Linked DNA regions of Homo sapiens. The protein of the gene in region 1 purifies or fractionates together with the protein of each later gene. This does not show direct contact. Each region holds a gene or a part of one and is shown on either strand. Other genes may lie near its edges. The genes, in order: EXOC6B, EXOC3 and EXOC2.

Region 1 (3,702 bases):
GTTCTTCATTACATCCCAGAACATACCAGGCTCATGCCAACATTGTACTCTAATATGGTCTGCACCAAAAATACTCATTCCTATGACTTAACAAAATTTGACTTGCATTCCTTCAAGGCCCAGCTAATTAACATTCTGCTTCTTCTGAGCTGTCTTTCCTAACCAGACCCTTTCCTTCACTAGGCCAGGATGACTGTACCCCTCCTGCACTGAGTCTAAAATAGGCTCATCTCTCCCTTTTCTCCAGCCTGGCTTTGTTCTGGATAATCCTACAACACTCCATCTTGACTGGGAGCCTTTCCTTGGCAGGGCTAGTGTTCAACATTGCGTTCTAAGTTGCCTAGCCCAGTGTTCCACATAACTCAAGCATTTCAAAAAGTTCTTCTTGATGATGATGCCAGTGTTAGCTGCATAAGCAGGAAAAAACGTAACCCAGGGGTTAGGGATGTTTCCAAGGCCACAGTACGGCTCCTTGCCTTGTGTGGAAGGTAGGCTTTCTCTTCCCCACTAGGCTCTTGCCTGCTCTAGTCCTCAGTCCAGCTGAGTGGGGATGCAATGTCAGCCATCCAGTTCACCAACCACAGCTGCACTGTGCAAAAAGGATGGAAGAACAAAATACCCATGAGACAACACCGTGGCTTTTGAAACAGGTATGTAGGCTTTCTTGTTTAATAGCAGTTAAAAGAGGAAAATGTACAAGAGGAATAAACATGCTCTTTTCACAGAGGAGCTTTCCCCTAACCATGCGGCCCATCTGTATCAGTAGCTTTACAAGTAAGTTTTAGAGAAAAAAGTTCCCTTTAGAGTTAAAAATGGACTTTCCTAATTTTCTCTATATATGTGCAACTATCTGTGTAAAATAAAAATGCCATTTCCAACACCTTTGTGAAAAGTAATTGTGAATGCAGGCAAAAAAAAAAAAAACAAAAAGGAAGAAGAAGAAGAAGAAGAAGAGGCAATTGCAGTCAAGAGAGGAGTCCTGGGAGAAGGGAGGCTAAGGTAGGGGAATTTCTGCAGCAGTTCCTAGAGAGTGTGCTCAGAGGCCTGATGAGGAAGGTCATGGCCAAAGCCAGTCTTGGGAGATAAAAGGCCGTGGGTCTGGGACTTGCTGAGTAAGCACTTGTCAAGTGTACAGTAAGGCTAGACTGACTTGGAGGACTGGTATGCAATGAGAACAGTGGGCAATGCACCCTGGAAGCTCTACATTCCCTTTGCCAACAGGATCTCACTTCCTGGTTCCCATTTTCAGGTCCTGTTCTTCCCTACCTGCAACAGCTTCATTTATAGCCTGCTCAAAGAGATTTTCCCTATGAATGTTAAAATGATGCAAGCAGCCTATATTACTACTGAAACCTAATAGAGTCCCAAACTGAACTGTCCCTTCAGGAATATAGACCTGGTTTCCTCAAGAACTTGGCCAAGGGTTCATCCTGACCAGAAGCCATACAGGCTTCTAGCCATCTGTGTGCTTGCCCTCTTATTGAGGCCCTCCACGGTACTTCTACATCTCTAGGTATTTGAGGCCATATCTGAGGAGTCTGATGGGTCTGGGCACACATGCTTTGCACAAGTCCTCTCAAGGGTTGGCCCAGCTACAGGTTATAGACAAAACTAAAAACATCCCACTTTTCTAGTTCAAAAACTTGACATTGCTGGTCCCTGTTTTTACCTTCCCTGGCCCACCAAGAGTATGTCTCTACATACAACTCAGTAGCTGCATGTTGTTTTTTGTTAGATAAGGTGAAGGCAGACTAAGAATGGAGAGAAGATATATCAAAGGGTCCATCTTTATGTCTTGAGCTTGAATAAGCTTTTCCTTTCATGGGACTTCTGTGCAGAATAACCCCTATTCCTCCACCTTGTTCACTTTTTCCTGTATAGCACAGTTCTTCCAAGGCAGAGGTTTGAGACCAGACCAGCAATGATGATCCTCTAAAAAGACAAACACTGTGCCATGCTTACACATCTCTCCATTTCCACTTCAAAGTCTCTCAGCACTTAAAGCTGAAGAGATCTTGCTGCAAACTGGGTACTAGCAAAGAGAAGTGTTTTGAACTCTTCTCAAGCAATAGAACTTCAGATTAATATAATCGTTTCTCACTTGTTTCAACAAAGATGAGAGCTTGGCGATGCCATTTTGGCTCCTGCCTTCTCTTGGCTTATCAAGTTCTGGGTGGCAGTGCTCATCCCTTACCCTCATTCTGAAACCCTGGCCAACCATCCAGCCCTCAGGATGAGCCTCAGCAGCATCTATGAGCTCACATGTAGCCTGGTCTCTCCAGCTTTGAGGAAATTTGTATGTCTGTGTGCACATCCTCTTCCCCATGACTATCAAGATATGATAGGATATGGTGAGGTAGGGGGGTTGGGGAGGGGCAAGGAAGTACTTCCCTCCCCAGAAGCAACTCAGTAGCTGACAAAGGTAGTGAAGAATTCTGTTTGATGAGTCTCTCCTCCCATCAATCCAAGCTGGAAATGCCTGTGTGGCTTATTTGTCATTGTTTGGTGATGCACAATTATACTCTTGCCACTAGCCATCTTTCTGCTACTAGCCAGTAGCATCTTTCTGAAGTGTCTTAAAGTACAGTTTCCCCCGACTGACCTCATAGCAAAGCCCTTGCGTTAAGTCTCAGGAGTCCATCTGGGTCAATGAGTGCAGCCTCCACGCTAAGCTGCTCCAGGCTTTAGAGTTTGGAGGACAGGATTATAGGCAATCTTTCTTAGACAAGGCCAAAGATGGCTTTGGGGATCTCAAAAGAGGGTGGGAACCTTGGGCTTGAGCAACAAAATAATATCTAGGATATTATTTAGTGAAGGACAGTTGGGCCAGAGGCAACAAGCCACAAGCCATGGTTGGCTCTGTCGACTTTATGGTAACAATGTCTCCATCCCTAGAGGCATCCAGTCCAGGCATGGCTGCCCCCACAGTGCAGAGCTGGTGACATTTCCTTAAAGATGATAACCAAAAAGCTGGTTTTAAAACATAAAGGAACAATCCCAACTAATCCTCAGGTTACACCTAAGGGTAAGGTAAAGGCCATTTTTAGGCTTCCGAAATCTGAACTATTTCAATGGCATTACTGGAGGAGGCTAAGTCTGAAACGCCCTGTGAAGGCCTATGGAAGTAACTGTTGATTTATGTCCTGAACCAAGTGCTCTGACTGTAAGTGAAGGAAATGAGATGAACAGGGAAGGGATTGGGTCTCTGATTCCATGAAAACTGGCTTTCAAGATCCAGAAAAACTCTTCGAGTTGAGACTCAACACTCCTAGAGCTGGGGCAATATGCAGTTAAACATGGGATCCAATTATTACTGCTGTCTACTTAGCTGTATCCTGCCCTAGAAAAAATTGCAATAAAAGCCTGGGGTTAGATCAGGCTAAAGAAACCGCCATTCTTGGGGGATTGGAATGAAGCTGTCATCTTGCCATATGCCATGCTTGTTCACAAGCCAGTGAAAGTCAGCAGACTGAGGAGATGACCCTCCAGAGCTGCCCTTAGTGTACTAAATAGTAATGTTTGCCATGCCCTTTCCTTGTATTGAGAAGAATCAGCCTCATCTATGTGGTGAATGGGCATCCAAGAGTGAACAGGACATATTTTAGTATCCTTTTGCTTACTCACTCTACCTCCCAGCGCCAGATACCCACTTTTTATGGTTCCTAAGCCCCAGACCTAAGCTTTAGAGCCATGGATGAAAGG
Region 2 (3,752 bases), on another chromosome or scaffold:
ATGAGCTTCCCAAAATGACATGTTAAAGATGGAAATATCTGTGCATGTATACATTTTACCTTTAGTGGCTACATATATTTATCGTATTTATTTGCCCAATTCTCTATTGATGGACATTTAAATTTTTTTCACATTTTGCAATAATGCAACAGTGAATCTGTATAATTCTGATGAAATTCCTTAAAGTTGAATTTTTCAGTCAAAAAGTATACACATTAAAACCAATAAAAGTATACAAATTAAAACTCCAATAAAAGTATACAAATTAAAACTCCAATAGAAGTGTACAAATTAAAACTCCAGTAAAAGTTACAGATTAAAACTACAATGGCTGTATTTCCAAGCTGCCCTCAAAAACCCAACCCAGTTCAGGCCCACACAGAATACAAACAGCCCCTTTTTCCCACACCCTCAACAAGCCTGAACAGCATCCACGTCTCCGGCTCCTGCCATCCTGCTGAGCAGCAGGTCCTGTTGAGCATTCATTGCTTCGAGGATAAGATCGGGCGTCTAGTTTCACGATGAGGACACTGGTGTTGCTTTTAATGTGAGGTGGCCGTTCATGTCTTTTGCCCATTTTTCTATATATTCTTTTTAAATTTTGAAATAATTTCAAATGTAAATATTTTCTTCTTGCTAAGTCATATTTGCGAAAGTTACAAGTGTCTGCCTCTTTGGGGACACTTCCACACACATTTCTGTTCTCTTGCACAACCAGACACTGATGAATCAGCAACCAATCCCACCCCTCATCCCAGGAACCCCTTTCCAGCAGGACCACCAGATGGCCATGGTCTTATTATTTTGTTGTTGTTGTTGTTTTGAAATGGAGTTTGCTCTTGTTGCCCAGGCTGGAGTGCAATGGCGCGATCTCTGCTCACTGCAACCTCCACCTCCCGGGTTCAAGCAATTCTCCTGCCTCAGCCTCCCAAGCAGCTGGGATTACAGGTATGCGCCACCACACCCAGGTAATTTTGTATTTTGAGTAGAGATGGGGTTTCTCCATGTTGGTCAGGCTGGTCTCGAACTCCCAACCTCAGGTGATCCGCCTACCTTGGCCTCCCAAAGTGCTGGGATTAAAGGCGTAAGCCACCACACCCGGCCTACAAGGTCTTATTTTTTAAATATATCCTGATTTCTGCCAATACCTCTAAATAATGTTAAGCCATCTTTATGTTTCTGAAATAACCCCTACATTTCATGGTAGGTTATGCCTTTGATACAATATTAAATTCATTTTATTAATGATTTTTGCGTGTGTACCTATATTCAAAAGCGAAACTGATCTATGTGAGGATGTGTGTGTGTGTGCACTCTCAATTTGACTTTTTGACAGGTCCCTACATATCGGTTTCTATTTTGTAATCCACTAAATTGTCTGATGTCTTTAATACTTACAGGGTGAATCTACTGAATTGTGCGTAAGAAGGACCCTGCATCATACGAAGCAGCGTCACCGAAAACGGAGGCGCTTTAAGCGATCTGACCGGAATGCAAGTGCACAGCCCGGCTCCCCAGACGGCATCCGCACGGTACAGTTCACAGCCTGTGTCCCAGAGGGCAGTGAGGAAGCACTGGGCTTCGGCCCAGAAAACGGCAGGAGGAAAGAGCCAGGCCCACCTCCAGGTCCAGGAAGACCTCCTCCAGCAAACCGCTGCAGCCCTCCTTCGCGATGGCGTCTAAAATCCCGTCCATGCTGGGCTGGCTCGGAGACACACCCTCTTCCACTTCATTCTTTAAATACTTTCTTTTTAAACTGACTATGGATTCCCTGCAAGGAAAGGGTTCAGGTTCAACACAGCGGCTGGGCAGGCCGGCCTCCACCGCTCCCCCGCCACAGCGCCCGGCCACACTCACTTGAAGGTCTGGCAGTTGTTGATGATGGCGATCATGTACTGAACGTAGCAGTGAGGGTGCTGCCGATTCCTCAGGTGCTCTTCTTTATACAGCTGCGCTTCATCTTTATATCTGAGGACAGACAGGCTTCGGTCAGACAGCACTAAGGGCAACATGGAGCTGTTTCAAATGCCACGCTGACGTCACGCCTGGCCTGAAATTTCACATCACTAACATCTGACCGGATGAGCCTCTAAAAATAAAACAATCTTTAGACGATCCAGACTAATGGAAGGACAGAGAGGTTGATTACTTTAAATGGATCAAAAAATAACTTCACCTCAGGCTTTAAAATATGGCTCATTAGGAGGCTGAGGCAGGGAGACCACCTGAGCCCAGGAGTTAAAGGCTGCTGGCTGCGCTGCAGTGAGCTACCCGTCGGGGTAACCTAATCAGACCTTGTCTCTTTTTTTTTTTTTGAGATAGAGTCTTGCTCTGTCACCCAGGCTGGAGTGCAGTGGTGAGACCTTGGCTCACTGCAACCTCCACCTCCTGGGTTCAAGTGATTCTCCTGCCTCAGCCTCCTGAGCAGGTGGGACTACAGGTGTGCCCCACCATGCCCAGCTAATTTTTGTATTTTTAGTAGAGACAGGGTTTCACCACATTGGCCAGGCTGGTCTCGAACTCCTGACCTCATGATCCACCCGCCTCAGCCTCCCAAAGTGCTGGGATTACAGGCGTAAGCCACCGTGCCTGACCGACCTTGTTTCTTAAAAACAATTAAAAAATATAAAAATTTTGAGGAGTTGGTAAAAAATAATAACTGAAAAAAGGAAAAAAAATATGGTTCAGCATTCTGATTGTAAAAATATACTACATAGTTGATTGTGAGGAATTGGGAAAGCATTATCTTATTTTATTTATTTTATTTACTATACACTTCACCTAGAAACTCATAGTGTTAGGAACCTCATCAAATGTCAGGTAAAATGTCCCTTTCAGAAACTGTCCCTGAAATCATCCAATTAAAAACAGACACTTGAAATGTCAAGAAAACAAACAGAGGTAGTGACACGCTCTATTTTTAAACTTACTGTGGGGATGCTCAAGCACCTATGGGAGTGGAAGAATCATACAACAAATACCGTTTCTATTTTTAAGAGATGTTAAGAAAGGAGCACACTGAAAGCTGGCAATTAAAGGGAAAGAAGTTAGCATTTCTGTCCAAAGTGTGGTTCAGGTCATCAAAAAGCTGAGGGTGATCAAGGAACGGTCTCTTTATAGAAGAATCTAACCTCATAAATGACAATGACCTCCAAAGAAACAAACTCAGGCCAAGATCCCCATGGACAGATGGCCAATAGGGATTTGGCCATGCCTCTGTGGATAGAAGGCCAATGGGGACTTGGCTAAGACTTGGCCAGTGGGGACTTGGCTAAGACCTCTATGGATAGAGGGCCAATGGGAACTTGGCTAAGACTTGGCCAGTGGGGACTCGGCTAAGACCTCTATGGAAGAGGGCCAGTGGGGACTCAGCTGTGACCCCTGTGGATGGGCGGCCAGTGGGGACTTGGGCATTACCCCTATCGATGGATGGCAAATGGGAACTCTGAGTGGGCGGCGTGGCTGTAGTACCTAAGCCACCAGGACAGGACCTATGGACGCCATGTCTCCTGATGTGCCACATCGTGGAAGGCACACTCACCAATAAGTGGGATCCAAGCCTGCAGAGCCAGCATCTGGCTCGGGAGCTGACAGTAGACTGAGGAGGAGGCTGAGGGACATCTCTCTACAGAGATCTACAAGCCAGCAGCTGAAGGAGGGAAGGGGCTATTCGGCTTACCAGAGGCCTAGGAACCCTAAGCCCTCATGCGATGCAGTCCAATCTGATTCACAACTATCAAAAGACACACTTG
Region 3 (3,752 bases), on another chromosome or scaffold:
TGTGACCGACGGGAATGAAAGGCTAACTTCATTGGTTAGGAAAAAATGGAAAACGTATTTTCAGTTGCAAAGCTGACAGAATGACAGCAAGCCATGTTATCAGATGCTGGAAATGAGTGAGTAAGCATATTACAGTGTCCTCAAACATTTCATTTGCATACGACTTGGCTTCTCAGGCACATCAACACTATAACCCAGTATTTCCTAGGTAATGTTGCCCACGTAGTAAACAATTTTGCACAGACAAACAGTAGTTCTGCTTCACTTCACCTACTGATATTTCAATGGTAGGAAATCCTGACTTTCATTCAAAACAGCTAAAAATTATCAAATTTCCACTACAAAATTTTGCAGAGAAACCACAAGGCTTCCTCTTATACTGATATTTACAGCACTTGAGCTGTCCTTCAGAGTCTGCTATGAACAGACTAAGACTCAGTTCTTATCCTCTTTTGCTTTAAGAAGTATGTCATACTCTGCTGTATTATAAGACTAAGATTTGTCAGTAGTAAATGAAAAAATTATATTAAACCCCTTTCATTTACATTGTGTTACAAAGTGGCCTTGACATAAACTTTATCACATCACAAATTCATGAGCATGTGCTCTGATCAGTCATCTTTACAGAGGACAGAATTGACTAGTAAGACAACCTTTATTTTTAATAGAGCACTCAACTAAAGAACACTGCCACTTACTTGCTTTCGGGTGTCAGGTAAACAGCCACAGTGTCCCTCAAAGCACAGATTTCAAGTCTCGCCTGAAAATGAGAAAAAGACAAAGTGACAACAGGAAAATTTATATTATCAAATATAAACAAGTACTAAGGTTAAGGGTCTCCAGCCTGCTCATCGTAGGATGGGGTTGGCGTAATACCACCATGGTGACCGCCAGTCATGAGTAGAGTTTCTAAAACAGTCCGAAGAAATTTGCTACCACAAAATGTTCGTTGACTGAAAATTAACTTGTAGTCAAGGATGACTGTGTGAGGGCAGGGAACTAGATATCTCACTATGAAAAGTACAAACTGTGTCATGATTTTCCAGCCATCTGTATTTACTCTCTAACCACTAATTTTTCTTTTAGTCTTGCAAGAGGAAAGACACTTTGAAACACTGCCCTGAAAGGGCCCGTGTCCCACAGAGGTAAGGATGTGGCTTGGCATGCTTCCTGACACCTATGCCCTTGCAGGCACACTGCCTTAATCTCAAAACCTAAACTCTGCTCTATGGATTCAATGCAATCTCTATTAAAATCACAGCTGCTTTTTTTTTCCTTAATGGAAACTGGCAAGCTGATTGTAAAATTCATAAGGAAATGCAAGGCACTCAGAACAGCCAAAACAATCTTAGAGTAACACATTTAGAGGCCTCAGACTTTCTGACTTCAGCCATACTCCAAAGCTAAAATATATTTAAATATTGTATACCCTCATATTTATGATCAACTGCTATTCAACAAGGGTGCCAAGACCACTCAGTGGGGGAAGAACAGTCTGTTCAACAAATGGTGCTAGGGCAACTGGATATCCACATGCAGAAGAATGAAGTTGAATCCTTTCCTTAACACAAAAATTAACACGGATCACAGATCTAAATGTAAGAAACTTATGAAACTATCAGAAGAAACCCAGTGTAAATCTTTGTGACCTTAGGCTAGGAAACCCTTCTTAGAAATCATGCCGAAAGTATAAACAACAAAACAGATAAAGTGGACTTCACCAAAATTAAAAATCCAGTGCTACAAAGACACCATCCAGAATGTGAAAGGACGACCCACAGAATGAGGTATCACTTCACACCCACTAGGATGGCTATAATCAATAAGAGACAATAACAAATAATGGTGAGGATGTAGAGACATTGGAACCCTCAAAAATTGCTGGTAGGAATGTCTGCCACTTTGGAGAACCGTCTGGCAGTTCCTCAGAAGATTAAGTATAGAGTAACCACATGACCTAGCAATTCCGCTCCTTGGTATGCACGCACGAGACATGAAAACACATGTCCACACAAGAACTTGTATAGGAGTGTTCACAGAAGCATTCTGCATATTAATCAAAGGTGGGAAAACCACAAATGCCCATCAGCTGATGAATGGATAAATAAAATGTGGCATATTTAAAGTGGAATATTATATGTAAAAAGAAGCGAGGCACTGGCATATGTCACAACATGGATGAACCCTGAAACATTACGCTACATGAAAGAAGCCAGTCACAAAGGGTCATATTTTCATGTTTCCATTTATACGAAATTTTCAGAGTAGACAAATCATAGAGATAGAAAGCCAATTGGTAGTTGTCTGTAGGGGGAAAGGGTGGTTTGGGAGGCAAATGATTAGACTTAATGGGTCAGGGGTTTCTTTTGGGATGAAATGTTCTAAAATTGATGATGGTGATGACTGGACAGCTCTTTGAATATACCAAAAATCATTGAATTGCATATTCTTTTTCTATTGTAGACAGATCGTATGCTATGTGAAATATTTCATAAAAGTTTTAAGAAAAAAGTTAAGCTTTCACTTCTACGCAAGCATGAATAAGTGTGATCTGACATACAAGTCAGTTTCCTGGGAGCTCCAGCAGACCCACTGACAATGATAACTTGATGTTCTGAAGTAGGTGCCCACAGTGAGTGGGACACACAGGAGAACATTTAAAAGAAATATCCCTTATTCTCAAGGAGTGGACAAAACATAAAACAATGACAAAAGACACAGCCAGCTCTTCACAGTTTATTAGAAATTCTGTAAGCCATCTAGATCAAAGCAGATATATATGACACAGGATATTCAGTGACCTTTTTCTGTTTGGAAGGCAATTGTTTGGTTTCATTTTTTCAGTCCCTTAGAAGCCTGAAAAACAGTATATAACTAGAAAGTTACAAATGCTAGAAAGTATGACAATTTCTGTCTCTATTTTGTTTATATTCTAGTATAGGTAAAAACAGACCTACCAGGAAAAAAGGTAGAACTTTCAGCTGACCATTTTAGGAGAAAGATTAAATTACTACAAAACCAATCTTCTGGTAGAAATTTTATTCAATCAAGGTGATAGAGTGTTTTAATTAACCTGTAAGTTATGCCAATTATAAAAACTGTGGTTAGCTATATAATACCTACAAAACTGTAATCCAGAAAACATCATGCTAAAAGATCTGCCAAAATCACCAAACTGTCACTCCCCTTTTCACCAAGCTCTCAGGACAGTTCTGGAGTTTGGCACCTAATTGCCTATCAAAGGTTAACCTGCTATCCCTCTTAGAGCTATGGCCTCAAGGAAGGAAGCTCTCAAAGTCATTCTCAGTGGGAGAGTGAAGCGGGAGTTTAGACTCACGACCTTTTTCAAAATACACATGTCTGTCCAGGCCCGAGGAGGTCTCAAAAACTGGAGGCTGGAACAGTTTGATGGCCAGTAGTTTCTGGACATGTGTACGTGAAAAAATTTTCCAGCTAATTCTGAGATCACTTTCCAACCTCTCCCTGCTGGTTTTGAGAGTGGTTTAGCCATCAGATAAATGGATTACGGAGGTAATGTGTAGAGAGGGCGGATGCCTGTTAAAATTCTAAGACTGCTAAGGCCCACAGTAGCGACTGCGACTGCCTGTTAATTCATCTGTAGTATTACACAGTTTATACTACTCATCTCCTGTGATGGAACTATTATAATAACCATGACCTTTCAACTTAAACGATAATATCAAAGATCTGATACATCAATTTTCAGAGAAAACTGGTGGCAAATGGAAACA

The links.
Region 2: the proteins of EXOC6B (region 1) and EXOC3 purify together in Homo sapiens (affinity purification with mass spectrometry; 4 studies listed by BioGRID and IntAct, with this or other methods). This does not show direct contact.
Region 3: the proteins of EXOC6B (region 1) and EXOC2 purify together in Homo sapiens (affinity purification with mass spectrometry; 2 studies listed by BioGRID and IntAct, with this or other methods). This does not show direct contact.

The regions. Positions count from the first base shown.
Region 1 is NC_000002.12:72,175,349-72,179,050, forward strand, and holds the end of EXOC6B (exocyst complex component 6B), read right to left. Parts: 3' UTR 636-3,702; downstream 1-635. UniProt on the Homo sapiens protein: Component of the exocyst complex involved in the docking of exocytic vesicles with fusion sites on the plasma membrane.
Region 2 is NC_000005.10:460,176-463,927, reverse strand, and holds part of EXOC3 (exocyst complex component 3), read right to left. Parts: intron 1,969-3,752; coding exon 1,858-1,968; intron 1,772-1,857; coding exon 1,621-1,771; intron 1-1,620. UniProt on the Homo sapiens protein: Component of the exocyst complex involved in the docking of exocytic vesicles with fusion sites on the plasma membrane.
Region 3 is NC_000006.12:490,427-494,178, forward strand, and holds part of EXOC2 (exocyst complex component 2), read right to left. Parts: intron 761-3,752; coding exon 699-760; intron 1-698. UniProt on the Homo sapiens protein: Component of the exocyst complex involved in the docking of exocytic vesicles with fusion sites on the plasma membrane.